Homo sapiens: one gene and its partners. The protein of the gene in region 1 interacts with the protein of each later gene in a pairwise test. Each region holds a gene or a part of one and is shown in the gene's direction. Other genes may lie near its edges.

Evidence for each region.
Region 2: the proteins of EYA3 (region 1) and DNM2 interact in binary tests that used the Homo sapiens proteins (3 or more experiments, as listed by UniProt).
Region 3: the proteins of EYA3 (region 1) and APBB2 interact in binary tests that used the Homo sapiens proteins (3 or more experiments, as listed by UniProt).
Region 4: the proteins of EYA3 (region 1) and KIF1B interact in binary tests that used the Homo sapiens proteins (3 or more experiments, as listed by UniProt).
Region 5: the proteins of EYA3 (region 1) and MECP2 interact in binary tests that used the Homo sapiens proteins (3 or more experiments, as listed by UniProt).
Region 6: the proteins of EYA3 (region 1) and PECAM1 interact in binary tests that used the Homo sapiens proteins (3 or more experiments, as listed by UniProt).
Region 7: the proteins of EYA3 (region 1) and ZDHHC17 interact in a two-hybrid assay, tested with the Homo sapiens proteins (one large-scale study listed by BioGRID and IntAct).

The regions. Positions count from the first base shown.
Region 1 is NC_000001.11:28,078,252-28,082,338, reverse strand, and holds part of EYA3 (protein phosphatase EYA3), read left to right. Parts: intron 1-1,887; exon of another isoform or gene 1,888-2,007; intron 2,008-4,087. UniProt on the Homo sapiens protein: Tyrosine phosphatase that specifically dephosphorylates 'Tyr-142' of histone H2AX (H2AXY142ph). 'Tyr-142' phosphorylation of histone H2AX plays a central role in DNA repair and acts as a mark that distinguishes between apoptotic and repair responses to genotoxic stress.
Region 2 is NC_000019.10:10,724,326-10,728,412, forward strand, and holds part of DNM2 (dynamin-2), read left to right. Parts: intron 1-4,087. UniProt on the Homo sapiens protein: Catalyzes the hydrolysis of GTP and utilizes this energy to mediate vesicle scission at plasma membrane during endocytosis and filament remodeling at many actin structures during organization of the actin cytoskeleton.
Region 3 is NC_000004.12:41,204,214-41,208,300, reverse strand, and holds part of APBB2 (amyloid beta precursor protein binding family B member 2), read left to right. Parts: intron 1-4,087. UniProt on the Homo sapiens protein: Plays a role in the maintenance of lens transparency, and may also play a role in muscle cell strength. Involved in hippocampal neurite branching and neuromuscular junction formation, as a result plays a role in spatial memory functioning.
Region 4 is NC_000001.11:10,213,208-10,217,294, forward strand, and holds part of KIF1B (kinesin-like protein KIF1B), read left to right. Parts: intron 1-4,087. UniProt on the Homo sapiens protein: Has a plus-end-directed microtubule motor activity and functions as a motor for transport of vesicles and organelles along microtubules.
Region 5 is NC_000023.11:154,087,273-154,091,359, reverse strand, and holds part of MECP2 (methyl-CpG-binding protein 2), read left to right. Parts: intron 1-4,087. UniProt on the Homo sapiens protein: Chromosomal protein that binds to methylated DNA. It can bind specifically to a single methyl-CpG pair. It is not influenced by sequences flanking the methyl-CpGs.
Region 6 is NC_000017.11:64,384,235-64,388,321, reverse strand, and holds part of PECAM1 (platelet endothelial cell adhesion molecule precursor), read left to right. Parts: intron 1-4,087. UniProt on the Homo sapiens protein: Cell adhesion molecule which is required for leukocyte transendothelial migration (TEM) under most inflammatory conditions.
Region 7 is NC_000012.12:76,766,675-76,770,761, forward strand, and holds part of ZDHHC17 (palmitoyltransferase ZDHHC17), read left to right. Parts: intron 1-4,087. UniProt on the Homo sapiens protein: Palmitoyltransferase that catalyzes the addition of palmitate onto various protein substrates and is involved in a variety of cellular processes.

The DNA.
Region 1 (4,087 bases):
ATTATTTTATATAAGTTGAGGTGCACCTTAATGCAGGAGTCTTGTACTCAGATAATGATATTATTTTTCTGAATATTTTGAAAACAGTCGAGAATCGTAGAATCTGGTTTACAGAAAAAGTATAAATATTTCTGGTAAGAAGTGACATTTGATTAGGAATACTAATTTTAATTCTCATGTTAACTCTTATTAATTGAGACATTAAGTATACTGTTTTTTTATAGTAGCTTTTGTCCTTTTTCCACTTGGTGGGAAAGTATTGTTATGGAGCTGAACAGAGTAAGCTTTGCTATGATGATAATACTTGTTGATATTTAGAATGTTCTTTACTTTTAGTTAAACATTTAATTTTTGATTCAAAGCAATTCCCTTTTAAATTGCTTCTGCAATTTAATTTAATTTAATGGCTTCCACATTCAAAGCAATGTGGGTCTGATAATCAGTGTATTTAAACATTTCAATAGTTTTCTTTCACCTGAAATTTAATATTGTAGCAATTACTGAATTTAGGAAAATTGGTAGGTAGTTGCTATCAGCACCGTTACTACGGGAATACATTAGAATGATTAGCTTTTAGGTGAAATTGAATTTTTTCTTTAGTTTCCATAGTGACTGAAAACGATTTAGGTCAGCTTCACCTGTTGTGCCCCTCCCCCTTTTCAAAATAAGAGGAACATTTAATTTAGCACAATGATGTTAATTTTTTCCTAGTAGATTGATGAAATGAATGTGATAATCTCACTCTCTTTACCAAAAGAATAATCCAATATATACATGTATGAATTTTGGGGGAATATTTCAGACTTTAGAGAACATTATAGGATAAAAAATAGTACCTAAATATCTTATAAAAATCAGTGTTTTATTACATCACTGAATTTTTCTCTTTTAAATTTAAAAATGTCAAATTTAGGAAACATCTGTGATAATTTAAAGAATAATTTTTGAAATCTGCTTTTGCTTTTCACCAGGTGTTCTTCTGCTATAGGTTAGGAAGCAGTAGTTAGGCAACACTAATGAATAATATTCTTGAGAGTGAGAACTAGAGCTTCACAAAGAGAATAGGCCATCTCTCATATTTAGTGGGGCATTTAATAGGTAGATAAACTGAAAATTTTTGCTTTCATTTCTATGTATTTTTTGTTAGTATGTATTTATTTACTGTAGGTACCTCACATTCTGTGCAAAAAAAAATTTTTGGAAGTAACTCAGTGGTTTCCTTTATCTTTTTTGTTCTCTTTCAGAGGCTTGCTTATATAAAACTACAATTTAGAGAACCATCGGCCGGGCGCAGTGGCTCATGCCTGTAATCCCAGCACTTTGGGAGGCCGAGGCGGGAGGATCACCTGAGAGGCAGGAGTTCAAGACCAGCCTAGCCAACATGGTGAAACCCCGTCTCTACCAAAAAAAAAAATACAAAATTAGCCAGGCATGGTGGCAGGCGCCTATAATCCCAGCTACTTGGGAGGCTGAGGCAGGAGAATCGCTTAAACCCAGGAGGCGGAGGTTGCAGTGAGCCGAGACCACGCTATTGCACTCCAGCCTGGGCAACAAGAGCGAAACTCCGTCTCAAAACAAACAAACAAAAAAGAGAACCATCAAACTCTGAATGTTGTTTCCTCTGTAGTATGAAGTGGTTATTTTCTTCCCTTTTTGACTGGCCATTTTTTTTTTTTTTCTGATAAAGTGGCTTTTAAACTTTTCTGATCATGACCCACTATAAAATACATTTTACATTGCTATCCAGTACTCAGACACATATATGTACATATTAATATTTGAAATCGAAACAGAAGTTTCTTGAAACAGTATCTTTACTACTGGTGATGCATTGTAATATTAATATTTTCTATTCTATTTTGTTTGTTTGTTTGTTTTTTGAGACAGGATCTCACCCTGTATCACCTGGGCTGAAGCGTAGTGACGCTATCACGGCTCACTGCAGCCTCGACCTCCTGGGCTCAGGTGATCCTCCTGCCTCAGCCTCCCAAGCAGCTGAGACTACAGGTGTGTGCCACCATGCCTCACTAATTTTTTTTGTTTGTTTGTTTTGTGTTTTATAGATGCGGTTTCACTGTATTGCCCAGGCTGGTCTTGAACTCCTGGGCTCAAGTGATCCTCCTGCCTCAGCCTCCCAAAGTGCTGGAATTATAGGTGTGAGCCACTGTGCCTGGCCTCTATTTGTTTTATTGTTTTTAATTTAAAACAAACTGCTGGTTTCCATTCACTAAGTTGATATCAGTGCCGTTACTACGGGAATACATTAGAATGATTAGCTTTTAGGTGAAATTGAATTTTTTCTTTAGTTTCCGTAGTTAATGCAATGTACCTGCAGTTTGCAAAATTTTAGTGACTGCTAGATCTTTCCCCTAATATTGTCTTTTTGTAATGGAAAATGTTTAGGTTTGGGGCCAGGTGTGGTGGCTCATGCCTGTAATCCCAGCACTTTGGGAGGCTGAAGTAGGAGGATCACTTAAGCCCAGGAGTTCAAGACTAGCCTGGGCAACATAGCGAGACCCTGTCTCTACCAAAAAAAAAAAAAAGAAAATGTTTAGGTTTGCTAGTTTTTTTCTCTGCAATGTACGTGGATGGATTCTGTAAAACTTAACCTAAATAGCTGCAGAACAATCATTGAGAGAGGGAGGTCCTGTTGCCCTGATTACCATTACTGTCATCCCTGTTCTTTACCATTTCTAGGCACATTATTTTAAAAACTTATTTTGGAATCGTGAGGTTGAAAATGCTCGGTTGTATGCTGAGCTTCTATCGTTAGAATCCTTTGCTAGTTTCCATCTAACAGTCCAAAGTTTAGGTCCTTTCAGTTGGTTTTCACAAACCTTGCTTCTGTTCTTGGCAACTAGTCAAAAGGTTACAAAGCTGCTTTATTCTGCTCTCTTCTGGCCCAAGTCCAGTCTTTGTAAACCAAAAAAAGAGGACTGAGGAATGAAGCAGTTTGCTCATGTGTATATGGTCAGGTGAAATAACATGACTGAAGAGTAATTAGGGTTTGCGACAGTGGATTACATTTATGTATTGTCCCAATTCGTTTCCTGTAATCACAAAGGGGGAAAGGGCGTAGAAATATCAACAGTTCCTTGCCTATCCTAGCTGGTAGAGTGAAACAGGGTCAGCAGACATACTCTACTATTTTTATACCACTACCTGCTCTTAACACTTAGTGAGCACTTACTATGTGCCAGGCACTATTTAAAGCACTTCACTTGTGTTAACTCATACTCATACTTGGGAGGCCTGGGGAAAAAAAATGAGAATGGTAAAGGATAAAGAAGAAGACTTGCCATCTTCTCGTATGTTCTCATTACTTGGCTTAAGAATTCTGGCTGTTGATGACTATAGTATGGCATATCATACATTTTAAGCTCAGTCAGCTTTTAAATATCACCAGTCCTGTCTGCATTGTTCCATTATGAGACACATAGCTGTGGTTTGAGAACTCAGGCTTTGAAGCTAGCCTGCCTGGGCTCGAATACCAGGTTGGTGACTTACTATGTGTATAGCATTGGGGAAGTTACTCTCTGTGCCTTAGTTTTCTCATCTGTAAAATGGTGATAATAACAAATAGCTTCTATTTTATAGACTTATTGAAAGATTAAAATAATTAATGTATTACCTGGGCATGGTGGTGCATGCCTATAATCCCAGCTACTCAGGAGGCTGAGGCATAAAAATTGCTAAACCTGGGAGGTGGAGGTTGCAGTGAGCTGAGATCATGCCACTGCGCTTCAGCCTGGGTAACAGAGCGAGACTGTCTCAATTAAAGAAAAGAAGAAGAAAAAGAAATAGTTAATATATTAAAAGTACTTAGAACGGTACCTGACCCATAAGAAGCATTCCATAAATGTTTGCTATTAATAGTATCAACTCACAGTTGGAGCTCCTGAGAGTGTTTGTGACTATGATGAGTTCTGTATATTTGCTGAGTAACAGGGCATGATTGACATTTAATGTTATATTGCTCAGGAGCTTGAAAATATCTTGTCTTGAGGACCTGTAGGGAAAGTTCTTGTGTAGCGTGTTGGATTTAAAGCTAAAGGTTATCAAGGCTACAGGCCCAACTTTTAAAATC
Region 2 (4,087 bases), on another chromosome or scaffold:
TGCCACCAGGCCCGGCTAATTTTTTGTATTTTTAGTAGAGATGGAGTTTCACCATGTTAGCCAGGATGGTCTCGATCTCCTGACTTCGTGATCCGCCCGCCTCGGCCTCCCAAAGTGCTGGGATAACAGGCGTGAGCCACTGCGCCTGGCCAGAGGGGGTACATTTTAAATAGGGAAATTGGTGACATTTGAGCAGAGCCTTGAAGGAGGCGAGGAAGGAACCCCTGGAGACGGGAAGAGAATCCAGTGCAAAGGTCCTGATGTGGGAGGATGCCCGGAGGCCAGTTTAGCAGGCCAGTGGAGGGAGATCAGATCTGGGAGATATTAGGGTGGGACCAGGCCTCTAGGAACATTGTGGGCAGGGAGGCTGTCTGAGCAGAGGGAAGTAAAGCTGGTGGCGCTACTGCTGTCCCTCTGGACCTGGCCAAGCTGAGGGCTCTCTCCTTTGATTTCCAGCTTCAACTCAGTTTTCTCAGTAAGCAGACTCCACAGGCATGTAGGCGCCCCGTGCCATTTTTCTTTTAATAAGAAGCAGCTGTGCCGGGGATGCTGGCGTTTCCAGCTGCGTTTTTATTTGGCCTTTGGTGATGTGTCCCTCCAGGGATATGTGGATGAGCCGCGGGGGCACTGCCTGTGCCTCAGTGGGTGCTGCACCAGTGCACATCGGATGCCCGTTGGCTCCTGTCCCTGACAGATGGAGGGGCACGTGATGTGTTCCTTGGGCTGGTTTGTCCCTTTAACAGATCTTATTAGTTTAGAGCCACTTGGAAATGACATCTTCTGTTTCCAGTGACTTTCCTTTTGGGCAAAGACAAATTGCATCTTGAAAAGGCCATACATGGCCGGGCATGGTGACTCACACCTGTAATCCCAGCATTTTGGGAGGCCGAGGCAGGCAGATCACAAGGTTGGGAGTTTGAGACCAGCCTGGCCAACATAGTGAATCCCGATCTCTACTAAAAATACAAAAATTAGCCAGGTGTGGTGGCGCATGCCTTTAGTCCCAGCTATTTGGGAGGCTGAGGCAGGAGAATCACTTGAACCCAGGAGGAGGAACTTGCAGTAAGCGGAGATCACGCCATTGCACTCCAGCCTGGGGGACAGAGTGAGACTCCATCTCAAAAAAAAAAAAAAAAGGAAAAAAGGAAAGGCCATGCAAGGCTCGGTTAGGGTGGTCTGCAGTGCTGGGCCTGCTGGAATTGGTACAGTCCAGAGGGATCTGTGGGAATATGGAAGGCTTGGTTCTGCCACACACCAAAAAAGTGACCTCACTTCTCTGGGCCTCAGTTTCCTCATCTGGAAAATGGGAACATGGTGGTCTCTGCCTACTGGGAGTGGACTGAGAATCACGTAGCAAATTGTTGTGAAACAGGCAGCATTTGTGATCTCGTTGGTTGGCTTTTGTCTCCTTTTATCTGGGATCAGGACTCTGATGACAGGTGTACGTTTCTTTTCTCTTGCTCTGTCCCCCAGACTGGAGTACAGTGGCGTAATCATGGCTCACTGCAGCCTCCAACTCCTGGGTTCAGGTGGTCCTCTCACCTGAGTCTCCTGAGTAGCTGGGACTATAGGCATGAGCCACCACACCTGGCTAATTACAAAAAAATTTTTTTGGCAGGGAGCGATGGCTCACACTTGTATTCCCAGCACTTGGGGAGGCCGAGGCGGGCGGATCACGGGGTCAAGAGATTGAGACCATCCTGGCCAACATGGTGAAACCCTGTCTCTACTAAAAATCCAAAAATTAGGTGGGTGTGGTGGCTCTCACCTGTAGTCCCAGCTGCTCGGGAGGCTGAGGCAGGAGAATCGCTTGAACCTGGGAGGCGGAGGTTGCAGTGAGCCGAGATCGTGCCACTGCACTCCAGCCTGGGCGACAGAGCGAGACTCTGCCTCAAAAAAAAAAAATTTTTTTTTTTTTAGAGACAGGGTCTTACTTTGTTGCTCAGTTTGGTGTCAAACTCCTGGGCCCAAGCGATCCTCCTGCCTTGGCTTCCCAAAGTGGTGGAATTACAGGTGTGAGCCGCCGAACCCGGCCTTAGTTTCTTTTTCCTTAAAGAGAAGGAACTCATCATTACTCTGTTGATATAAATGGAGTGCCTATCAGTGCAGGCAATGTTCTTGCTCTGGGGATACAGCCAGGACCAGGACATGCAGGCACGCCCTGTTCCCCAGATCCTGAAATATCGACCAGAAGTTGTTCCTGGTTCCTTTCTAAGTGGGAATCATGGCTGCAAACAAGTAATTGGCCGTGAGAGTTATTTACACACATTTTGTGTACGGTGATGAGAAATGGGAGAAAAAATGCCCAGCATCGGATCACCAGAGGTCAGGAGTTCGAGACCAGCCTGGCCAACATGGTGAACCCTCATCTCTACTAAAAATACAAAAATTAGCCGGGCGTGGTGGCAGGCGCCTGTAATCCCAGCTATTCGGGAGGCTGAGGCGGAGAATCGCTTGAACCTGGGGGACGGAGGTTGCGGTAAGCCGAGATTGCGCCGCTGCACTCCAGCCTGGGCAACAGAGCGAGACTCTGTCTCAAAACAAACAAACAAACAAAAACCAATGATAGGGGATTTGGCCAGATAAGCGTGTCCAGACAACCGACTATCAACTCGCTACTCAGAGGGATCTAGAAGAATCTTTAATGACCCAGAAAGCTGCACAAGACCTGTTAGGTACCAGATGAAATGGGCTGTGGGATCCTGTCTTGTTTAAAACGATTGTATTTGCTCAGTGAAAAGACCGGAAAGACATACTCTGCCCTAACCCCACATGTGAATCGTCTCCCCATGTGATTCTTGGTTTGTTTTTGCTGGTTTGGGGATTAGGTTTATAATCAGGAAGACAGATTTCTCCAAAGCTGCGCTCTAGGCTGTCCAAGTGCTTTTTCAGAGTTACTTATTGACGGATAACAGCCCTTGATAGGTTCATAACATTGAAATCCCCTGGTAATAACCTGGATTGTTTCTGGATGAGGGCGGAAGATGGCCTTGGGGACAGTTGTAGATTTAGAGAGGAGGTTTTCTTTTCTTTTCTTTTTCTTTTTTTGTTTTTTTTTGAGACGGGATCTCACTCTGTTGCCTAGGCTGAAATGCAGTGGCGTGATCACAGCTCACAGCAACCTCAACTTCCTGGGCTCAAGGGATCTTCCCACTTCAGCCTCCCAATTAGCTGGGACCACAGGTGTGCGCCACCACCCCCAGCTAATTTTAAGAAATTTTTTGTAGAGGTGGGGTCTCATTATTTTTTGCCCAGGCTAGTCTCAAACCCCTGGGCTCAAGTGATTCTCCTGCCTCGGCTTCCCAAAGTGCTGGGATTACAGGCAAGAGCCACGGCACCCGGCCTAGGTTAGATTTAGAGTTTTCAGAGTTGGCTTAGGCGGTAGAGGCTGGCCTTTGAATGGAACCCTGTCTCGCTGTCGCTCTCAGCGTTTATATTTGGCTCAGAGCCACATCTGCCAAACTTCTGCCCGATTTGAATGAAAGTGCTGAAATTATAGGCCCCTCGGCTGCTGAAAAAAAGTGAGAACATCATGTAAACCGTAATTTACTGGGATTGCCAACTACAAGCTGTAATTAAGCCCTTATTGTGTTAAAGCTTTGGAAAAATCCAAGCCAATAATGAGATATTTATAGGGCATTAGCTACAATCTGAATAAAGGGAAAATGTGGCCCTGCGTCTGAAGCAGGACTGCAAAGAGAGGAAAGACGCCTGCTTCCGGGTGCGTTTTGGGTTTCTGTGAATATTGGTAACTAGGTCCCTGCTGGGTGGTGGGAAATTTTCCCCTGTGGCGTCACCCGTAGCTTGAACCGGGAGCTGGATGACTGTTTCAGTTTCATCTGCTGCTGGACATTTATGATGTTAAGAGCCAGTGTTTATGGAGAATCACCGTGTGCCACATGTGCAAGATCTGACCAGTGTCTTCTCTGCCCAGGGGTGGCAGCTGCTGCTCTTAGCATCCCTGCTTTATAGGTAGAGAAACTGAGGCCAGAGAGGGAGACTGGCCTGAAGTCACACAGGGAGGAGGACAGAGGAGTTGGAGCTTGAACTGGATGTGGGCCCTCTAGAGCCACACATATGGCGGCTT
Region 3 (4,087 bases), on another chromosome or scaffold:
GAAAGGGCGAGACTCTGTCTCAAAAAAAAGAATGCAGAATATTGGAATCGAGGTAGAAGGAAAAACGTGTGTTTAAGAGGGTGAGATAGATTGGAGAGACTTTGCGGAATTCCAGAGGGTAAAGGGAAATGCCATTGTTGAAGAAGGAAGGCCTGGCATTACTGGAGGTATGGGATGTGTCCCTGTCGTGTAAGTCAGAGCTCAGTTTCCACACAATATAAAAGTAAATGAGTATCTCCTATATGCAGAGCATAATGTTAGCCCCACAGGTCATTTATTGTTGGTTAGTGGTTTTCACTGTTCTTATCACAATGATGATAATGATGTAGTGAATATGTCATAATTGTTCAAATAAGAAGATATGTCCTTTTCTCTGATACTATGCCTTTCTCATTTTTGGGTAAGATTCTTTTATGATTTGATAGGAATATTTTTATCTAGCCGCTGAATGGTCCATGAAATTGGTAAGTCTGGGAATCTGGGCCTGAGATGCAGGGAGGCCTGCCCTTGGGATTGAGTTGAGTCATGGAGGCCAGGCCAACATGTGGAGTTTGTGGGTCAGCTGATGGGGCCCCTGGGCTTTCCAGGAATATAGAGTCACCCAAGGTCCTAGGAACTGTGAATGAGCTAATTTTGAAAGTGCCCTAGGAGCCAGTGACTATTTTTGAATTATAGCTTGAGAATGACAAGGAAAGCACCAAGATGAAAGATGAGGGTGTAAGGGAACAGAATGGGCAAGTGGTTGAAGTGTGAATTTCAGCAGGTGAACCTCAAGATGTATCTTGACATTTGATTCTTTGCATGCAGGCCTCTTTCTGGCAAAACAACACTCTTTAGCAATTCTTAGTTAGTGATTCTAGGAAATGGTGATGGGTGAAAGCCATAGAACCTAGAATTGTGTAATAGCCAGCTTGGCCCAGACCTCTGCAGTATCATTCCCTCCAGGGTGAGCCTTGAATTGCTGGAGGAAGCTTCAGAATGATTTGCTCATGGAATTGCTGTTATTCACCTTTAGTTTTGGTTGCTATTGTGGGGTGAAGAAGGAGTGTCAAAACAATAACAACAAATTATTTCCTTTTTTTTTTTTTTTTTTTTTTTTTTTGAGACGGAGTCTCACTTGGTCGCCCAGGCTGGAATGCAGTGGCTTAATCTCGGCTCACTGCAACCTCCACCTTCCAGGTTCAAGCAGTTTTCCTGCCTCAGCTACCCAAGTAGTTGGAACTACAGGTGCCCGCCACTGTATCCGGCTAATTTTTGTATTTTTAGTAGAGGCTGGGGTTTCACCACTTTGGCCAAGCAGGTCTCGAACTCCTGACCTCAAGTGATCTGCCCGCCTCAGCCTCTCAAAGTGCTGGGATTACAGGTATGGGTCCTCTCCCTGGCAGCATCCTGCTTGCTCTTTGGTGCTGGCTCTGTTCTTACCTTCTGATCTTCCTTCTGTTTCTCAGGTAGACTTCTGTCCTGGGCAAGAGTCGACCTGCCACATTGAGTATCACAATTTGCTAGGTGGTATTGTTTGTCAGTGGAAGTGAATAAATCAGAATTTCCTTAGCATGAGTTAGGTTTCTTGAGTTGTTTCATTCCTGGGGGAACTAATACCGTTAAAATTTCCTTGACATTTCAAGAAATGATCATATACCACATTGCAAATTTTGAACACAGCAGAGGCATGATTTGGGTGTAGAGACACCTTGGGAAGCATTGATTCAGACTCAGATTCTTCAGATTATCTGATCAGAACCTCTTGTCCTCTCCAAGAACCAAGGTCTGTGTATACCTTTTCCAGGACACTGGTGAAGAGAGACATTCATTTGGTGACATCCAGAAACCTCGGCTTCATTTGTTCCTTCCTTTGTTCAGCAAATGCTTATTGAGTACATAGTTTGTGCCTGGCACTGTGCTAAGTTCAGGAGGACAGAGAGGAATGTACCAGAACATTGGTTATAGGGTGCTGCAGTAGAGGCATGTGTGTGATGGGAGTGGAGGGGAAGGAAGGCTGTCCTAATCCTGCGAGAGTGGCAAGAGCTGTGGCTAGTGACTCCTCATGTAAAATTCCCACTACAGCAAACCCTTCAGCTGCTTCCTTTGTCATCTTTCCTTAACTCAATTTTATTCCTGCCTACCACCCAGGATTTGCTACTCCTTTTGTAAGGGAACTCGGGATTTGGCCTTTCAAATCTCTGTGGCAGTAGTTCTTAAGCAGGACAGTTTTGCTCACTGGGGAACATTTGGCAGTGACATTTTGGTCATGGTGACTGTGGAGGGATAACTACTGGCATCTAGTAGGAAGAGGCTAAGAATGCTACTAAATATCCTACAACATGTGCAAGGATAGCCCTAGAAGGAGGCAGCAGGGGTTTAGTGGTCAAGTCCCAGTGCTGCTCTGCAATTTAATAGCCATATGACAAAGGGCAACAGAATTGTACTTTGACAACAGAATTACACAGTGCTCAGTTTGCTCATCTGCAAATAGGAATACTAATTGTGCTTATATAATATGATTGTTGTGAAGATTTCATCAGTGAATGTATAAGGGCAGAGAACAATACTTGATGTGAGATAAGACCTTACTTAACGAGTATTTTTATTTTTAGTTTTAAACAAAAACTTTACCTTTTGACTCTAAAGAGCTTGAGTTTAGAGTATCCAGGGCAGTTGAGCTTGTAGCCCTACCTGTAAGTATGCTTTGGTGTAGGAAATGGCCATAGTTTTTGTGTTTTTCTAGTTCCTTTTTGTCCGTTGGCTTTATTTCCCATTGTCTCATCTCTTGAGATTTTTAATAGCTTTGCCTTTCATCCCTTTTTTCCCAGGGACCCAAATTTATGCCCTTAATGAGCTTTTCCCTAGAGGGCTGAGAATTATATTTATGATTTTCCTTAGCTCTGTCTATTTTGGGAATGGTGAGAAAATGGGAAGCGGGTCAGGGGAGATGTTGCATTACTTCCTGATTGCCATAGCTCCCTTCTCTGTAAAATCCCGTGAAGGATTGAGAGGCAGGTGGTAGTGCTTGCTTAGTAACTCTTCCCTTTACACCCACCAGCTCCACTCCCAAGTTGGGTGCCTACTACTTCCAAAATACCCCGTAATTGGGTCACAACATTATCTGCCTGCTTGGAATCATATTTAAAAATCAAAGCAAAGATGCAGACTATGTCAGCAGGATTTGAAATGTTTCCATCCTCTGCTTTGAGGCTTTGCAGAATTATTCTGAAAACAAAAGAAGGTAAACTTGTTATCCCAATGAGGTGGCAGTTTCTATGTGGCCTAGAATTATGCCTAATTTTTGCTTGTAAAAGGGCTCAAACCATGATCCTTTCTGACTTTCCACAGGGATGTGAGCTTTTGTGGACATCACTCAACAGATCAGATTTACTGTTGAATTTTCATAACATAATTGACTTGGAAAGCATTTCATTCAGTGTTTTGAATGGTGACTAGAGAGAAATTAAGAAGCTCAGTTGTTATATCTTTCGAATTCCTTTCCCATGACACAGTCATCTCTCCCCTGAATGAGAGCAGTGGCCTCCTGGCTTATCCAGCTCTGTTCACTCAGTTTGGCTTCCCAAGTGCTGGGCACTGTTCCAGATGCCACACGTGGACACTGACCAGGATGGCCACTGCCTCTACCTGCTCGGAGCTCTGGGTCTATAGAGAAAGGCTGACAGCTAAGGAATGAATGACGGTACTATGTGATACGTATTACTGGGAGAAATACTCAGTGCTTCCCAGACGAGCACTTATCCTGCTTGGGTGTGGGGAGTGTGTGGGGCAAAGCTTCCAGGAGAAGGGATGCTAAGTCTATTCCACAGTGCACCTGGACCTCTATCTTATGGTTCCTTAAGGCACCCTGACTCTAGCTCCCGCATGGAGCCTGCTGTTTCTGAATGCGTGCCTCCACCTTCCCTCCCACCTCGGTTGCTTCTCACCTTGGAGGCTGCACTTGCCTTTTTCCTGGTCTCTTTCTGTTTCTACTGTACACTGCCTCCAAGGTGATCTTCTGAAATCTTCTGCAGATCTGGGCATATCATCCCAACTCTTCAGGGGCTCCTTGCTGCCCTCAGGATGAAGTCTAAGCTTTTTGATGAGG
Region 4 (4,087 bases), about 18 Mb from region 1:
TCAGCATTTGGTAAAATCAGACCTGATTGTGAATCTGATACAGAGGCTAGGTTTTATGAGTATGTGTAGCTCTGCTCTGATGAGTGTTTTTCCAAAATTTATCCAATTAAGTATAGCTTTTAAGGCTTAGAACAGACTGTTTTTCCTTTTCAAGACCAGATATGAATGCACTTTTCCTTTTTTCTCTCTTTCTTCTTTCCCATTTTGATTTCGTGCAGGGAATAAGTGTCCAAGAAAGTCTGCCAACGGAGTCTTTCTTAAGGCCAAAGCTTTTTAGCCCATTTTCTCACTGTGGTCTTGTCCTGGGTACAAAGTAAAGGACAATGGGCCCCCTGCCTTCCTGTTTGTAATCCCCTTCCCAGGCTGCTAATCATAGTAGATCTTTTCCAGGAGGAAGCATATCCTTTTGGTCTTGTAAACTAACATGATATAATTTCATAATGCTCTGAAGTTATTTTATGTCTATTTCATGTATTTCTCTTTGAAAGATGGCCTCGTTTGAACAGGTACTGGTGAATATCTGGATTCTGTGAAACAGTGTGAATAAATATGCATACTTCTTGAACTTTTTTTGTGCAGCTTGTCAGGATAGAAGAGAAATTAAACAGATGTGACTGTGGTAGGAAAAACCTGCAAAAGGTGCCTTGGGCCGGATGCAGTGGCTCACATCTGTAATCCCAGTGCTTTGGGAGGCTGAGGCGGGAGGATTGCTTCACATCAAGAGTTTGAGACAAGCTTGGACAACATAGCAGGACCCCCATCTCTACCAAAAAAAAAAAAATCTGGATGTGGGTGGTGTGTGTTTGTAGTCCTAGTGCTTCGGAGGCTGAGTGGGGAGGATGGCTTGAGTTTGAGATTACAGTGAGCTAAGACAGCGCCATTGCACTCCACTCTGGGCTCAGACTTTGCCTGCTAAAAATAAAAAGATGCCTTGGACTTCTCAGAGTTGAACTGTTTGGTTAACGGGCCACTGATTCATTGATGCTCTTTTACTATAGGCATTACCCATTAACTGAGGGTGCATGTAGAGATTTAGTTCTTTACCTTCCAGGAACTCACACTTTACCACTTCTTTCTTTCTTTCTTTCTTTTTTTTTTTTAAGACAGAGTCTCGCCCTGTCACCCAGGCTGGAGTGCATTGGTGTGATCTCAGCTCACTGCAACCTCCGCCTCCCGGGTTCAAATGATTCTCCTGCCTCAGCCTCCCAAGTAGCTGGGATTACAGGCACCTGCCACCATGCCCAGCTAATTTTTGTATTTTTAGTAGAGATGGGGTTTCACCATGTTGGCCAGGCAGGTCTCGAACTCCTGACCTTCTGATCCGCCTGCCTTGGCCTCCCAAAGTGCTGGGATTACAGGCATGAGCCACCGTGCCCTGCCCTTTTTTTTTTTTGGGATGGAGTCTTACTCTGTCACTCAGGCTGGAGTGTAGTGGTGTGATCTTGGCTCACTGCAACCTCCACCTCCTGGGTTCAAGTGATTCTCCTGCCTCAGCCTCCCGAGCAGCTGGGACTACAGGTGCACACCACCATGCCCAGCTAATTTTTGTATTTTTAGTAGAGACGGGGTTTCACCGTATTGGCCAGGCTGATCTCGAACTCCTGACCTTGTGATCCACCCACCTCAGCCTCCCAAAGTGTTGGGATTACAGGCATGAGCTACTGCACCTGGGCTACCATTTCTATATAGAAATGGTGAGATAAAGTTAACTCCAACTCCTTTTCATTTTAGTACAATTTAGTATCCTGATATGGTTTCCGTGATTTCCAGTCAGAGCATTTTCAAAATTCTTTGTAATGTTGTATGTACATAATACTGTACTTATTATCTAATACTCAATTGGTACTTTTACATTTGTCTTGTGGTTTTTTGTATAGTGTTTGAAGTCACAAGCTTGTAAATGTTTGATGGATTTAAAAATTTATATATTTTATATATATATATATATATATATATATATATATATTTTTTTTTTTTTTTTTTTTTGAGACGGAGTTTCACTCTTGTTGCCCAGGCTGGAGTGCAACGGCGCGATCTCGGCTCACCGTAACCTCCACCTCCCAGGTTCAAGCGGTTCTCCTGCCTCAGCCTCCCTAGTAGCTGGGATTACAGGCCTGTGCCACCACGCCCAGCTAATTTTGTATTTTTAGTAAAGTAGGGGTTTCTCCATGTTGGTCAGGCTGGTCTCGAACTCCCGACCTCAGGTGATCCACCCACCTTGGCCTCCCAAAGTGCTGGGATTACAGGCATGAGCCACTGTGCCCGGCCTATTTTTTGTATTTAATATCACATTGTTTATACCAAAGCATATCATTCAACCATACTACCCTCTACCATTGCCCGTTTTTTTCCCCTTGAGACAGGCTCTTACTCTATTGCCCAGGCTGGAGTGCAGTGGCGCAGTCATGGCTCACTGCAGCCTTGACCTCCTGGGCTCAAGTGGTCCTCCTATCTCAGTCTCCTGAGTAGCTGGGATCACAGGCATGCGCTACCATGCCCAGCTAATTTTTAAATTTTTGTAGAGATGGAGGTCTCACTATATTGCCTATTGCCCAGCCTGGTCTTGAACTCCTGAGCTCAAGTGATCCACCTCAGTCTTCCAAAGTGGGAGGATTAAAGGCATGAGCCCCTGTGCCCAGCCCCATTGCTCTTTTGGATTACTATATTGTTGGCTTAGTTCTCTCTTTCATCCAGATTTTTGACATCATCTTGGCAGATGTCAATGACTATGTAAATAAACAATAACAGAAACAACAATAGTGATAAAATAGCTTATTCATATTGAGCACTTTCTGTGTGCCAGGCTTTTTTCTAAGCACTTTACGTTTATTAACTAATTTAACCCTAATAGCAGCCATATGAAATAAATACTGTTATTCCCATTTTACAGATGAAACTAAAACAGGCCAAGTGACTTCCCCAAAATCATAAGTACTAGTAAGTAACCACTATGCTGAGTTTCCTTTGTAACTACCGTTAACTGTGAAATTTCTTGAATTGAGCTCAAGCAAACATTGGCTTCATTCTGTTCCAGTTGTTTAGTGTTATGGCCACATTTTTAACTTGTCATCATGTTAAGGTCTCAAATTCACCTTCAAGTCTTAAACTGTGATAATTGATAGCTTTCACTTTCATAATCACTTTATGTGTGTTCTCCCACTCTAAGTCTCCTAAACCGTCGGCCTCTTCCAGATTTTACTTCTTTTCCTTCCTTTTCTATACTACGACCTCTGGGTTGCATTGCTTGCAGTTTTTATTCTTTCTTATTATTCTTCAGGACTTACTATGCAGAAGCCAGCCTCACATCATCCCTACCATCCATACCCTCCATTCTTACTCCGTGTCATGGAGAAACCTGCATAGTGCTGGGGATTAGTGCCACAATTAATGTGTAGTCCGAGGTCTCCCTTAAATCTGTCTTTGGTCCCTGTCGGAGCAGTTCTGCTTAGCTCCCTCCCCATTTCTCCACAGTTGCTATTATAAAATCTGGACCCCTTGACTCAAACCTGTCACTGCCCCATGCTTGGCAGAATACCTTGCCTGCCACCTCATAGGAAAAAAGGGCATGAACTCCCTGAGCTTTCCCTTCCTCTACTTACAAACTTCTCTGCCCTCTTTCTTCTGTTCTTTCCCCCAGTGTGAGAAAGAGGTTACTCTGTCTTGGCCTCTGTTAGGGATAGCACTGTTCTAATCTGTAGGAACTCGCAGTATTGGTTACTCTTCTTTTCCCTGCAGTACTTGCCCATTTTCTTTTTTTTTTTTTTTTTTTTTTTTTTTTTTTTTTGAGACAGAGTCTTGTTCTGTCACCAAGACTGGAGTGCAGTGGCCTGATCTTGGCTCACTACAACCTCTGCCTCCCGGATTCAAGTGATTCTCCTGCCTCAGCCTCCCAAGTAGCTGGGATTACAAACGTGTGCCACCACGCCCAGCTAATTTTTGTATTTTTAGTAGAGATGGGGTTTCACCGTGTTGGCCAGGCTGGTCTCAAACTCCTGACCTCAGGTGATCCGCCCGCCTCTGCCTTCCAAAATGTTGGGATTACGGGCGTGACCCATTGTGCCCAGCCTTTTCTACTGTTCTTGAACAC
Region 5 (4,087 bases), on another chromosome or scaffold:
GTGGTCACTCCGCATTTGATGTTTTGACATGTGGATTTCAGAACTTCTGTGTGGTAAAGCAGAATGTTCCAATTGAATTTTCCCATTTTTTTTCCCCTAAGCAAAAATGTGAGTTTTCACTTATGCGGCCATTGTGATTCCGACTGAGACCCTAAGTCGTTCTTTGTTGTCTCTCTAGTGGTTTCTGACACCTCAGTGTGAAGCTGTTGTAGACATCCATAAGAAATAGCCTGCTTAGGGATTATGTGAGGGCAAGGTTTGGCTGAAGGAGAATAGAAGGTGTGGAAGGAAGCGGAAGACCAGAAGAGCATCACACTGCCTCAAGTCCCAAATTTGATTCTGCTCCTGATCCTGTGACTCAAATTGTCATTCTCTTTTACTGCTGTGGGGTGTGCTCTGGGCCCAGCTGACAGGACATTCTTTGTACTCCACGTATTTATGCTGGTGGGAGTTGTATGGCTAGTGCTTTGTGCTTTGTCTCAGAAATTGTGTGGACTAAATGTAATATGGGCAGTGAATGGGTTTCTTCTGGAAGATGTTAGGCCTGGAGGGTGGTTTGGGTTTTTACGAGTCTTTTTCTCAGATTACAGATTACGAATGGATGTTATAAAACAGGCAGTGTTGACACCATACAGTTTCTCCTAAGAAATGTACAGAGAGTTCAACCTGAGGAAGCTAATTGAAAATAAACTTTTAAAAAGAAATGTAGAAAGAGGAAATTTAAAAAGTATCTTATGAATGGGAAAGATGTAGCCATTTGAGCTTCAAAGAACTTTTGAGGGAATTCTCAAAGGACAGTACCCGTCTTTAGTAGATAAATGCTTGATATCTATTTTTCTTCTTTTACTTTTTAAAGAATTACTAAAATAATACATGGATTTATAGAAAAATCAAACCACTTAAAAATTGATCAGGTGGCTGGGCAAGGTGGCTCATGCCTGTAATCACAGCGCTTTGGGAGGCCTAGGCGGGTGGATCACCTGAAGTCAGGAGTTCGAGACCAGCCTGGCTAACACGGCGAAACCCCATCTCTATTAAAAATACAAAAATTAGCTGGCCATGGTGGCTTGAGCGTGTAGTCCCAGCTACTCGGAAGGCTGAGGCAGGAGAATCACTTGAACCTGGGAGGCGGAGGTTGCAGTGAGCCAAGATCACACCACTGAACTCCTGCCTGGGTGACAGAGTGAGACTCGGTCTCAAAAAAAAAAAAAAAAAAAAGTATCAGGTAAAAAAATGAAAGCTCCCCGCTTAATCTCTGCTCCCACTACCCAGAATAACTGCTGTTAATAGCTTAATGTAGATCCTTCTAAGTCTTCTAAGACTAAACTGTGTACTTTTTGTGTTGTAATTAACAGGAGGGTTTTTGTTTTGTTTTGTTTTTTCTTTTTTTGAGATGGAGTCTTGCTCTGTCATCCAGGCTGGAGTACAGTGGCACAATCTTGGCTCACTGCAACCTCCACCTCCTGGGTTCAAGTGATTCTCCTGCCTCAGCCTCCTGAGTAGCTGGGATTACAGGCGCCTGCCACCACACCCAGCTAATTTTTGTATTTTTAGTAGAGATGGGTTTCACCATGTTGGCCAGGCTGGTGTCGAACTCCTGACCTCAGGCGATCCACCTGCCTTGGCCTCCCAAAGTGCTGGGATTACAGGCGTGAGCCACCGTGCCTGGCCTCAGGATGGTGTTATATATACATATTCTGCATTTTTCCATCTCATATATTCATCTCTGCCTCATTTCTTTTAAATAGCAGTGTAGTCCAGGGCTGACTTACCGTCATGCATTTCGTTGTCTCTCTATGTTATTAAAAATGCTACAGGATTGAAATTCCTCATGTGCCAGTCATTTTGAAGAATGGCTGCCTAGACTTGGAATTTCTGGTGGATACCACCACATCACTGTCCAAAATGGCTATCCCAGTTCCCACAACAGTCTGAGAAAGTGCCATTTTCCCATATCGTCCCAGAATTGGATATACATCTTTTAAATTGGTGCCGCTTGGATTATTACTGAGGCTAAACCTCAATAATCATTGTCATAGCTCTTAATGTATTAAAGATGTTAACTCTTTGTCATGCAGATATTTTCCTGTTTTGTCTTACGTCTTGATTCTTGTCTTTCTGATATATAAAATTTATGTTATGATTTATTCTTTTGCTTTCATACTTAGGAAATCCTTTTTTACTCTTTTTTTTTTTTTTTTTTTTTTTTTTGAGACGGAGTCTCGCTCTGTCGCCCAGGTTGGAGTGCAATGGCGTGATCTTGGCTCACTGCAAGCTCCATCTCCCGGGTTCATTCCATTCTCCTGCCTCAGCCTCCCGAGTAGCTGGGACTACAGGCGCCCGCCACCACGCCTGGCTAATTTTTTTGTATTTGTGAGACAGGGTTTCACCATGTTAGCCAGGCTGGTCTCGATCTCCTGACCTTGTGATCCGCCCGTCTCTGCCTCCCAAAGTGCTGGGATTACAGGCGTGAGCCACCGCGCCCCGCCAGGAAATCCTTTCCTACTCTTAACAACAGATCAATAGTCATCTATATTTTCTTCCTAAAAAACCTGATGATGTATTATATTCATACATACGTATTTAATACATACAAAAGGGCCAGATGCGGTGGCTCATGCCTGTAATCCCAGCACTTTGGGAGGCTGAGGCGGGTGGATCACCTGAGGTCAAGAGTTCAAGACCAGCCTGGCCAAGATGGTGAAATCCCGTCTCTACTAAAAATACAAAAATTAGCCAGGCGTGGTGGCGGGCACCTGTAATCTCAACTACTGGGGTGACTGAGGCAGGAGAATCGCTTGAACCCAGGAGGCAGAAGTTTCGGTGAGCCAAGATCACGCCACTGCACTCCTGCCTGGGCGATAGAGTGAGGCTCTGTCTCAAAAATAAAAAATAAAAATAATAATTTTATAGTTAAGTTGCCCTGTGTTTTTCCTGTGATTAAAAAAAAAAATACCTGTTTTGTATTTAACTTTGGGGTGGGATAAGGTATAGCCCACTTAGTCAGTTGTGTCTAAGCCACTTGATGAACCAGTCAATCCAGTCTTCACCTTTAACAAATGCTGATTTCTTCAAGTGAGCAAAATATCTCTTAAACTTTTTCCTATTTTCTCTATAAAGTTGCTTTTTTCTGAATTTTTTCTTTATGAGGCTTGATGGGCAGCCCTATCAGCAGACAATCATTCATTCACCCAACAAATATTTGAGTATCTGCTTCAAGCCAGGGGCAGTGCTAAGCCCTGGAAGTGGTATCTTCTCCTTATCCGGGAGTGGGGCTACAGTGTTCATTCCAGAAGACTCAAGAAAATAGCAGATCATCACAAAAGTAGGTTTTACATAAATGAGGAGGAATCCACAGGGTTGTGTATATGTGTGTGTATTTTAAATTCTGACATAAGTTGGAGCTTTAGGGTAGACTGTGACATAAGAGTAGTTTGTTTTCCAACTCATGTAATTGCCGGCTGATTTTTGTCTTGAATTATGATAATGGTAACTTCTGTTGAAACAATTCTGTATTCATCTTAGCTTGGTTGGGATGCAATAAAAGTTTTGTACTGGTAAAAATGATAATTTTCTTCCATGATGATTTTGAAGCTTTTCTGTAACACCTGATAAAAATAGAGGGGCCAGGCATGGTGGCTCATGCCTGTAGTCCCAGCTACTCGGGAGGATGAGGTGAGAGGATCCCATGAGCCCAGGAGTTTTAGGCTACAGTGAGCCATCATCACACCACTGTACTCCTGTACTCTAGCCTGGGCAGCCTCGTTCTTTAGAGTAAGACACTGTCTCTTTAAAAAAAAAAAAAAAGAAAAAAGAAAAAAAGAAAAGGCTTTTAGTGAATATATTTTTAGGGTAGCAAGTGTAATTTTTATAAATTGCATTATTTGAATCTAATAAATACCCTCAAAGCTGAAGTCGAATTCTGATTTTGATTGAAAATATTTTTTACTTAAAGGAAGAGGGATAGAATAAATGACACGATTAAGGAAAAGACTTCTTGTATAAGGCCGGGGTTTTTTAAATGATTTTTTGAATAGTTAGATGGACAATACGGAATTAAAAAGGTGGTGTAAAAAGTTATACGGGG
Region 6 (4,087 bases), on another chromosome or scaffold:
CAGCCCTCGTACCCTCCCAGACCACACCCTTTGGGCCAGACCCTGCCCTGCAGACACTCACGCTTTGGGGTCCCTCTTTTTCTTACCCACAACATCCTGTTTCCCAAAACCGTGGTGCTCTCCCCTCTCCCCCTCCACACCACATGGAAGTCAATTGCTCCCTCCTTTGGGTTCCTAGAGAATGAATGTTCTTTGTACCTTCAGGGAAGACGTTGGAACTGCAGCACATGGCACAGGGAGCGACTCTCCCACTGCCTCCTCAGGCCTCTGCCTTGTTTTACACTCAAGGAAACAGACCCAGAGGCCACAAGGCACCAAGCAAGCAGGGTCAACACTGGGGGTGGGCAGGGCGGCGGCTGGAACCAGGTCTCCATTCCTTAGGCCCCCTAGGCCAGCATTTGCAGTGCGTGGCCTGCAGGCTTGCTCTGAGTCTCCCGCTCTGCGGCTGGGGTCCTGGGACAGCCTCGGCCCTTTCCCTTCCTTCCATCTCAGGCCTCTTTGTTCCCCTCCAGCCCGCACCTCACTGCAGCTGCCTCACCTCAGGAGGTGACGGCTGCTCCATCTTCACCTAGAAAACAGTCATCTGGAGGGAACTCCCTCAACTTCCCGCCTGGGCCTGGCTGCAGGCTTATCAGCCTCTCCACCCATCCTCTCGGTTTCCCTCCCGGCCTCGGAGGACACATGCACCCTGCTCCTCAGCTGATGGGGGCCAGCCAGGCACTTAGGCTGAGACCCTTCCTCACCCCCAGGACCCCACGCCTACGTGCATTCAAGTCCCTCTCCCCTACCACCACTTCTAGAATCTCTATTTCTGCTTCTGGCTCTGTTCTCTCAGTGAATGGGAACTCTTTTTTTAGGAAAAAGAAAAATCACAAGCAGACACCCACCCCCACCGTTTATCTGGTGTCCCCCTATCTGGCCTTTCTAGTTTCCTTTCTCAGTCGAACCTCTCTGAAAGTTAGTTTATAATCTGTGCCTACCCACCTCACCTCTCAGACACGCCTCGCCTCCCAGCAGCCTGGCCTCAGGCCCCACTTCTCCGGCTGTTGGGTCTCCTCTTGCTGAGGGGTCACCAAGGACCACCTGATGCCAAATGCAACGGACACTTCCAGCCCTCGGCTCCCTGTACCCCTTTCCTGCCTTTGACTTTTGATCGTGCCCCAAAGCCTCGCTCCTTGACCTTTTCCATCCTCTTCCCTGCTTTGTCTCCTCACTCTCTAACAAACCCTCTTCCTTCTCCCCCATGGCTGACTTTGGACTTACTTTGTCTTCTCCTGGAGTCTGAACCCTGTCCTGGTCTCTGCGGGCTCCTGGTCTTATCCTCCCTGGAGACCAGCTCCCCTCTCAACACCTCCACATTCCCCCCTCCTCCCCTAAGTTCACACTCCTCCCACCTTCACAGTCCAGCCCTGGCCTCTGCCCTGAGCCTCCAGTTAACACAGGCTGACCTTTGATGTCTCCTCCCAGTCCTCCTACTGGCCCCTCACACGCAGCTGCACCACCATCACTTTGTCTTCCTTCCTTATCTTTTTCTGTTTGTTTGTTTGTTTTTGTAGAGACTGGGGTCTCATTTTGTTGCCCAGGCTGGTCTCAAACTCCTGGGCTGAAGCCATCCTCCTGCCTCGGCCTCCGAAAGTGCTGGGATAACAGATATGAGCCACCACACCCAGCTGCGTGTGGCATTTTCTATTTTAGTTTGGTGGCACACACATCCTCCTGGGAATCTAATCCAGGAAGTTTATCTTCCATTCTTTCAACCCCATATCCAATCAAACAAAGTCTTTTTTTAAATTGTGGTAAAATACAAATAATATAACATTTATTATTAATGACATTTAGTACATTCACGGTGTTGTGCAACCATCACCATTGTCTAATTCTAGAACATATTCTTTCTTTTTCTTTTTTTTTTTTTTTTGACAGAGTCTCACTCTTGTTGCCCAGGCTGGAGTGCAGTGGTTGGATCTCAGCTCACTGCAACCTTCACCTCCCAGATTCAAGCAATTCTCCTGCCTCACCCTCCTGAGTAGCTGCAATTACAGGCACGAACCACCATGCCCGGCTAATTTTTGTATTTTTAGTAGAGACAAGGTTTTGCCATGTTGGCCAGGCTATTCTCAAACTCCTGACCTTAAGTGATCCACCTGTCTTGGCCTCCCGAAGTGCTGGGATTCATTCTAGAACATTTTCAACACCCCAGAAACAAGTCCTGTTGAGTCCACTCAGGAGATCCCCAGCCTATCCTTCCCTCATCCCCACTGCACCCGCCTAGCTCAGGCCTCATCAGCTTTCACCTGAACCACTTCCAAGCTGTTTACTGGCCTTGGGTGCTGTCACACCCCTCCTGACACCCTCAGGACAGGGCCCAGCTTGTCAGCACAGCAGGCCAGCCCTCCATTCTGGCACGACAGACCCAGCCACCTGGCCTCTCTAGCCCCACACTCTGGTTTCTGTAATGGGCCATGCCCAGAAGGCACGGATTTCTCACACCCTCGTGTCCTGGGACACGCTGTTCTCTTACCTGGAGTACCCCACTGCCTGTCCTTGGCCTGGCAGGCTCAGTTCAGTGGTCACTTCCTTCAGACTCCTTGACCTCTCCTGGGCAGCCCTTCCTCTTGGTGCTTACTGATATCACTGGAGTCCAGCTATGTGGGCCCCAGCAACCTTTGCTGTTTGGGACAGCAAGGATGATTTCTTACTTACTCTGTCAGCCCAGCACCTGGCACAGGTTCTCGACACATGTCTCATTGGATGGGAACTTGAACTGAACTTGGAGATGCTTGAGATTCGGGTAGGAAGATGGCTCAGCATGCTCTCTGATGAGCACAGAAGTTCATCAGGGACTCTATGCTTCGTGGCTCCCAGTAATTTTCCTGACGAGGGTGGGCAGCCCCTCCTTCTCCTGCACCCTCCACTTTCTCTCTGAGTCATTTCCAGGTTGAGGGCCAGGGGGCTGGCTGACTGATGGTGCCGCATGTTTCCAGGGAGCACCACCATCCACTGATGAGTGGCCTTGAGGTCAAGGTCCCACTGTTTTTAGCATGTTGGGGTTTGGCACTGTGGTCACTGGCTGTTCCGTGGTGACTTTCCAAATTTAGATCCTTCTCCGTCAACCTTCATCTCCCCGGGTTGAAAAGATCTGACCTCTTTAGGCTGTCCCACAGCCCCACCCTTCATCACAATAGTCCTGAAACTTTTTGGGTTCAGTAAGGAAATCTGTGGGCCTTCTCTCCAGAAAAAGCACACATTTGCACACAATTGGAGGTAGTTGATGAGCCTCCTAACACCCACCCATGCACCTCCCAGGGGCTGTGTCCCCCAGGTTGTGAACAGTCACTCTGTGTAAATAGTGAGACCTACAGGCAGTAATTCAGTTTGGCTGTGCTTGGCTGGTTTATTTAGAAAGATGATAATGTTTTCCATATTATCAAAACAAGAATCAGGCAGAGACTTTTGAAGTTTGGTTGCGTGGTATATTTGTTACCTATTGCTGCATAACAATTTACCTAAAACTTACTGGCTTAAGATAACACAGATTTATTATCCTGAAGTTTCTGAGGGTCAGGAATGCAGGAGTGGCTGAGTTGGGTGGTGCTGGCACCGGGTCTCATTAGATTGCAGATAAATTGTTGGTCAGGGTTGCGGTTATCTGAAGGCTTGACTGAGTCTGGGGAATCTGCTTCCAAGCTCACTCCTGTGGCTATGGGCTGGAGGCCTTAGTTCCTCATCCTGGGTACCTTCCACAGGGCTGCTTATGCTATGACTGCTGGCATTCCCCAGAATGAGGGATCCCAGACAGGAGAGAGAGTGATCAGGATAAAAGCTGCATTGTCTTTTATTACCTGATGGAGTATTTTGTTGGTTAATGTTAACGTGGGAGGTGACCACGTGTAAGTGTGATGAGCAGAGGGCAAGGACCATTGGGGGGGGCATCTTGAAGGGCTTCTATAGCAAGGGAGGTGGTGGTGGTTGTGGCGGTAAAAACTAGGTCACTGTTTTTGTTGTTTTGTCGATGATATTTGTGTTAAGATGAAGAGCTGAGACTCATATCTCAACAGAGTTTATAAAATGCTTTTCTTTTTTCCAT
Region 7 (4,087 bases), on another chromosome or scaffold:
AGTGACCTGAGACAAGTGCTTAATTTCTTTAAGCTTCAGTTGTAATCAGAAAATGGAGATCCTGGCTGGGCTCGGAGGCTCACACCTGTAGTCCCAGCACTTTGGGAAGCCGAGGTGAGAGAATCACTTGAGCCCAGGAGTTCGAGACCATCCTGGGCAACATGGCAAAACTCTGTGTCTACAGAAAATACAAAAATTAGCTGAGCATGGTGGTACACGCCTGTAGTCCCAGCTAATCGGATGCTGAGGTGGGAGGATTGCTTGAGCCTGGAAGGTTGAGGCTGCAGTGAGCCATGATCGAGCAGCTGTACTCCATCCTGGGTGACAGAGCAAGATTATGTCTCAAAAAAAAAAAAAAAAGAAAAGAAAAGAAAATGGAGATGCTGCCTAGTTTACTTGGCTGTAAGGGATTAAGTGAGGCTATATGTTGAGGGTCAAGAACTGGCACATTGTAGGTGCTCAGTTAATGTTACTTCTTTTTTCTCTACCAGAAGAAAGGGAAGTGTTACACATTTATTTTGGTTTTGGTGACTGATTTAAAACTTATGTGGGTTTTAATTTAGTGGAATAGGATCTTGCAGGAACAAATTTCATTTCACTTTTTATCTTCCAATTTAATACTCTCACACAAAAACAGTTTTTCACTTTAGTATTTGTTAAGCAGATGAATTATTTGTGGGTAAAGAAATGAGCATTGCTTAAATCTCTTATTAGTATGCAAACTGCCCACTGTTAAAACCTTTCTTAGAGGATTATACAATTAGATAAACGCCTTTTTAGAGGTATTTTAGGTAAGATAATCTTACTTTTTAATGAATTAAATCATCCACTCATTTAGTTGGTCATTTAAACATTTGTTTGTCATGTTTGGGTAAGGAATTGTGCTGGAGTCTGTGTGAGACTTCAGGATATTTTTGGTGTTCAGTGAGAGGCAGTGTAGAATACTGGTTAAGAGCCAAAGTTGGCTGGGCGTGGTGGCTCACGCCTGTAATCCCAGGGTTTAGGGAGGCCGAGGCGGGCGGATCACCTGAGGTTCGGAGTTCAAGACCAACCTGACCAACATGGAGAAACCTTGTCTCTATTAAAAATACAAAATTAGCCATGCGTGGTGGCACATGCCTATAATCCCAGCTCCTCAGGAGGCTGAGGCAGGAGAATTGCTTGAACCCGGGAGGTGGAGGTTGCAGTGAGCCGAGATTGCACTCCAGCCTGGGCAACAAGAGCAAAACTCTCTTAAAAAAAAAAAAAATCCAAAGCTGTGGTGACAAACTGAAAATGTAGCTTCTGCAGCTTACTGTTATCATGGTCAAAGTACATTTTTCTCATTTGTAAAGTTGGGTTAATAGTGACACCTTTTACAGTTATTGTGAATATTAACTAGGCTAATGTTTATAAAGCAGTTTTCATAGACCTAGGCACATAGGCTGCCAAGCAAATTGTACCTTCTGAAGGCCCTGGCATATAGTGAATACTGAAAGGGAAGCTGCTGTTACTTTGTTTTCTTTTGAAATAGGTGATTATTTGTTTTATTGAAATGAAAGAAATTAAAGGCTCTTTGGATAAAGAAGAACTGATGATCAAGGGATTAGGGTACTAGTTCTAGCTCAGTGACCTTGAGCTAGTAGGTATTTAACTGGTCTCAGTTTTGTTGCTTTTAAGATAAAGTAGCTAGACTAGATGACCTCTAAGATTTCTTCAGACTCAAGTGTTCTGGTTTTAAATTGTGATTTTTCAATATAATCAACTTGAGCATCTGTCTACTAGGTACGTAGCATTGTGTTAGGTTATATGGGTTAAAATAACATAAAAAAGATAGCATATGTTTTCCAGAAGGTAAATAACTAGTTGGGAAGTTGTAGGCACGTGAAACACTGGACGATTCAAATAAGTACTGAATTAAGTAATGTAGCTTGTAAGTGGTGTCAGATTCCTGTCATTTAGAGTGGTTAGAAGAAAGGCTTCCGTAGAGGGACAGAGACCATATGTTGGTCTACTGGTCCAGCAGACTAGCCATGACCAGCTTCCATTTTACCTACTAGTACATCCTCAGTAAGTCATCTCAGCTCTTTGATAGAATGAGATCACAATATCCCCTTCTGCCACAGTATCACAGGGGCTATTTCAGAACCATCTGACTCAGAGCTTTGAACTGGATTGCCTAGATTATCTAGGGCTTTCATCTCTTTCTTTCTTCCTTTTTTCTCTATTTCAAAACTTCTGCTATTGCCTTTTTTTCTCATTTTCGTCTCTCTTTTTATGGTAACGTTTTTTATTTCACATTCATTTTATTATTTCTGATGATTTCTGTTTGAATATTAAATCAAACTATTGCTATTATCTACTGTCCTCACAGATTTCATAAAATCTACTTTTTGAAGCTTTTGGTTTTTTGCTTTAGTTTGAGATGGAGTTGCGCTCTTGTTGCCCAGGCTGAAGTGCAATGACGTGATCTCGGCTTACTGCAACCTCAGCCTCCTGCGTTCAAGCGATTCTCCTGCATCAGCCTCCCGAGTAGCTGGGATTACAGGTGCCTGCCACCACACGTGGCTAATTTTTTGTATTTCTAGTAGAGATGGGGTTTCACCATGTTGGCCAGGCTGGTCTGGAACGCCTGACCTCAGGTGATCCACCCGCCTCGGCCTCCCAAACTGCTGGGGTTACAGGCATGAGCCACCATGCTCGGCCATGAAGCTGTTCTTTAGTGAAAAGAATTTTGCCATTTTCTATTACTTTTTGCCCTATTATGTATATATTATATGTGTGTGTGTATATATATGTATTTGTACACATATAAGGTAATTCATTTGCTTTCAGAAAGCAGATACAAAATGACTTTGAAAGTTGTTTTTCTTCCCATAGGTTACCTGCAACTCTTTTCCTTCAAAGCACTTCTTTATGCAGTCACTAGGATTTGATGCCTTTTAAAAAATTCAGCAAAAATGTTATAGGTCATATAATAATAATCTAGATTTTAAAATAATGTATATTTTAAAATACTATATATTAAGCTTAGTAACTACTATGCTTAGTATAGTGACCACTGTTAAGCCCAGTAACCACTGAGCATTACTATTAAGCTTAGTAATCACTGAGTCAATAGATATAAAATTAAAATGTGATTAATTGGTGAGACTTCATGGATTGTGCTCAAAGCCAGAGTTGAAAATTACTGACCAAAAAATTGTTCTGGTTTTGAGAAATGTCATTTTCCTGATTCGGCTTGTTTTATTTTGTTCATTATTTTTATTTAATTTGGGAGGATCTCAAAAGTATTTATTAAGAGTGGACTGTGGAGTTGGTGGATATAAGAGTATATAGGTTAAAAGTGAGCAATGGTGTTAGGATTCAAATCTCAATTCTGCTCACTAGCTTGCAATCCTGGGCACGTTATTGAACTCTGCATCCCAATTTTCCAAACTAAAATGGGGGTATAATAACACCTACTTTATGAGGCTGTTGTGAGGATTAAGTGAGATAATACATGTGAAGTTCTGTGTCTGGCACTTAGTAAACAACAATAAGTGTTGGCTATTAATATTGTGGTAAAAAGTAGTACCTCAAATTGATAAACAATTGTAGTATGCATATATTAGAGTGGCTAAAATAATTAGTATTGGTTGTCTCTGGGGATTGAAGAGAAGATGGGCAGAGGACTTCTTATTATAAGCCCTTTTGCCCTATTTGATGTTTTTAAAGACGTGTGCTTTGCTACAAGGGAGTGTTTATTGAGAATCCAAGTATGGTCTTGACCCTTTGCTAGGCTCCGAAGTAATAACATTTACAAAATAACACATTGTAAAATGATGTAAGATTAACTGTAGACCTTCAGATACCTCAGGATAGATGAGGGAGAGTGTGTCTGTGTGTATTTTTTAAAATTAGAAATGATTCGTGGTCCTCCTTTCCTCCTAGAGAGGGTTGTAAGGGTATGTTAAGGTAGTCAGCATTGAACAGTTAAGGTGTCTTAAAATGCAGTGTGCTGGCCGGGCTTGGTGGCTTACGCCTGTAATTGCGGCACTTTGGGAGGCTGAGGCTGGCAGATCTCCTGAGGTCGGGAGTTCGAGACCAGCCTGACCAACATGGAGAA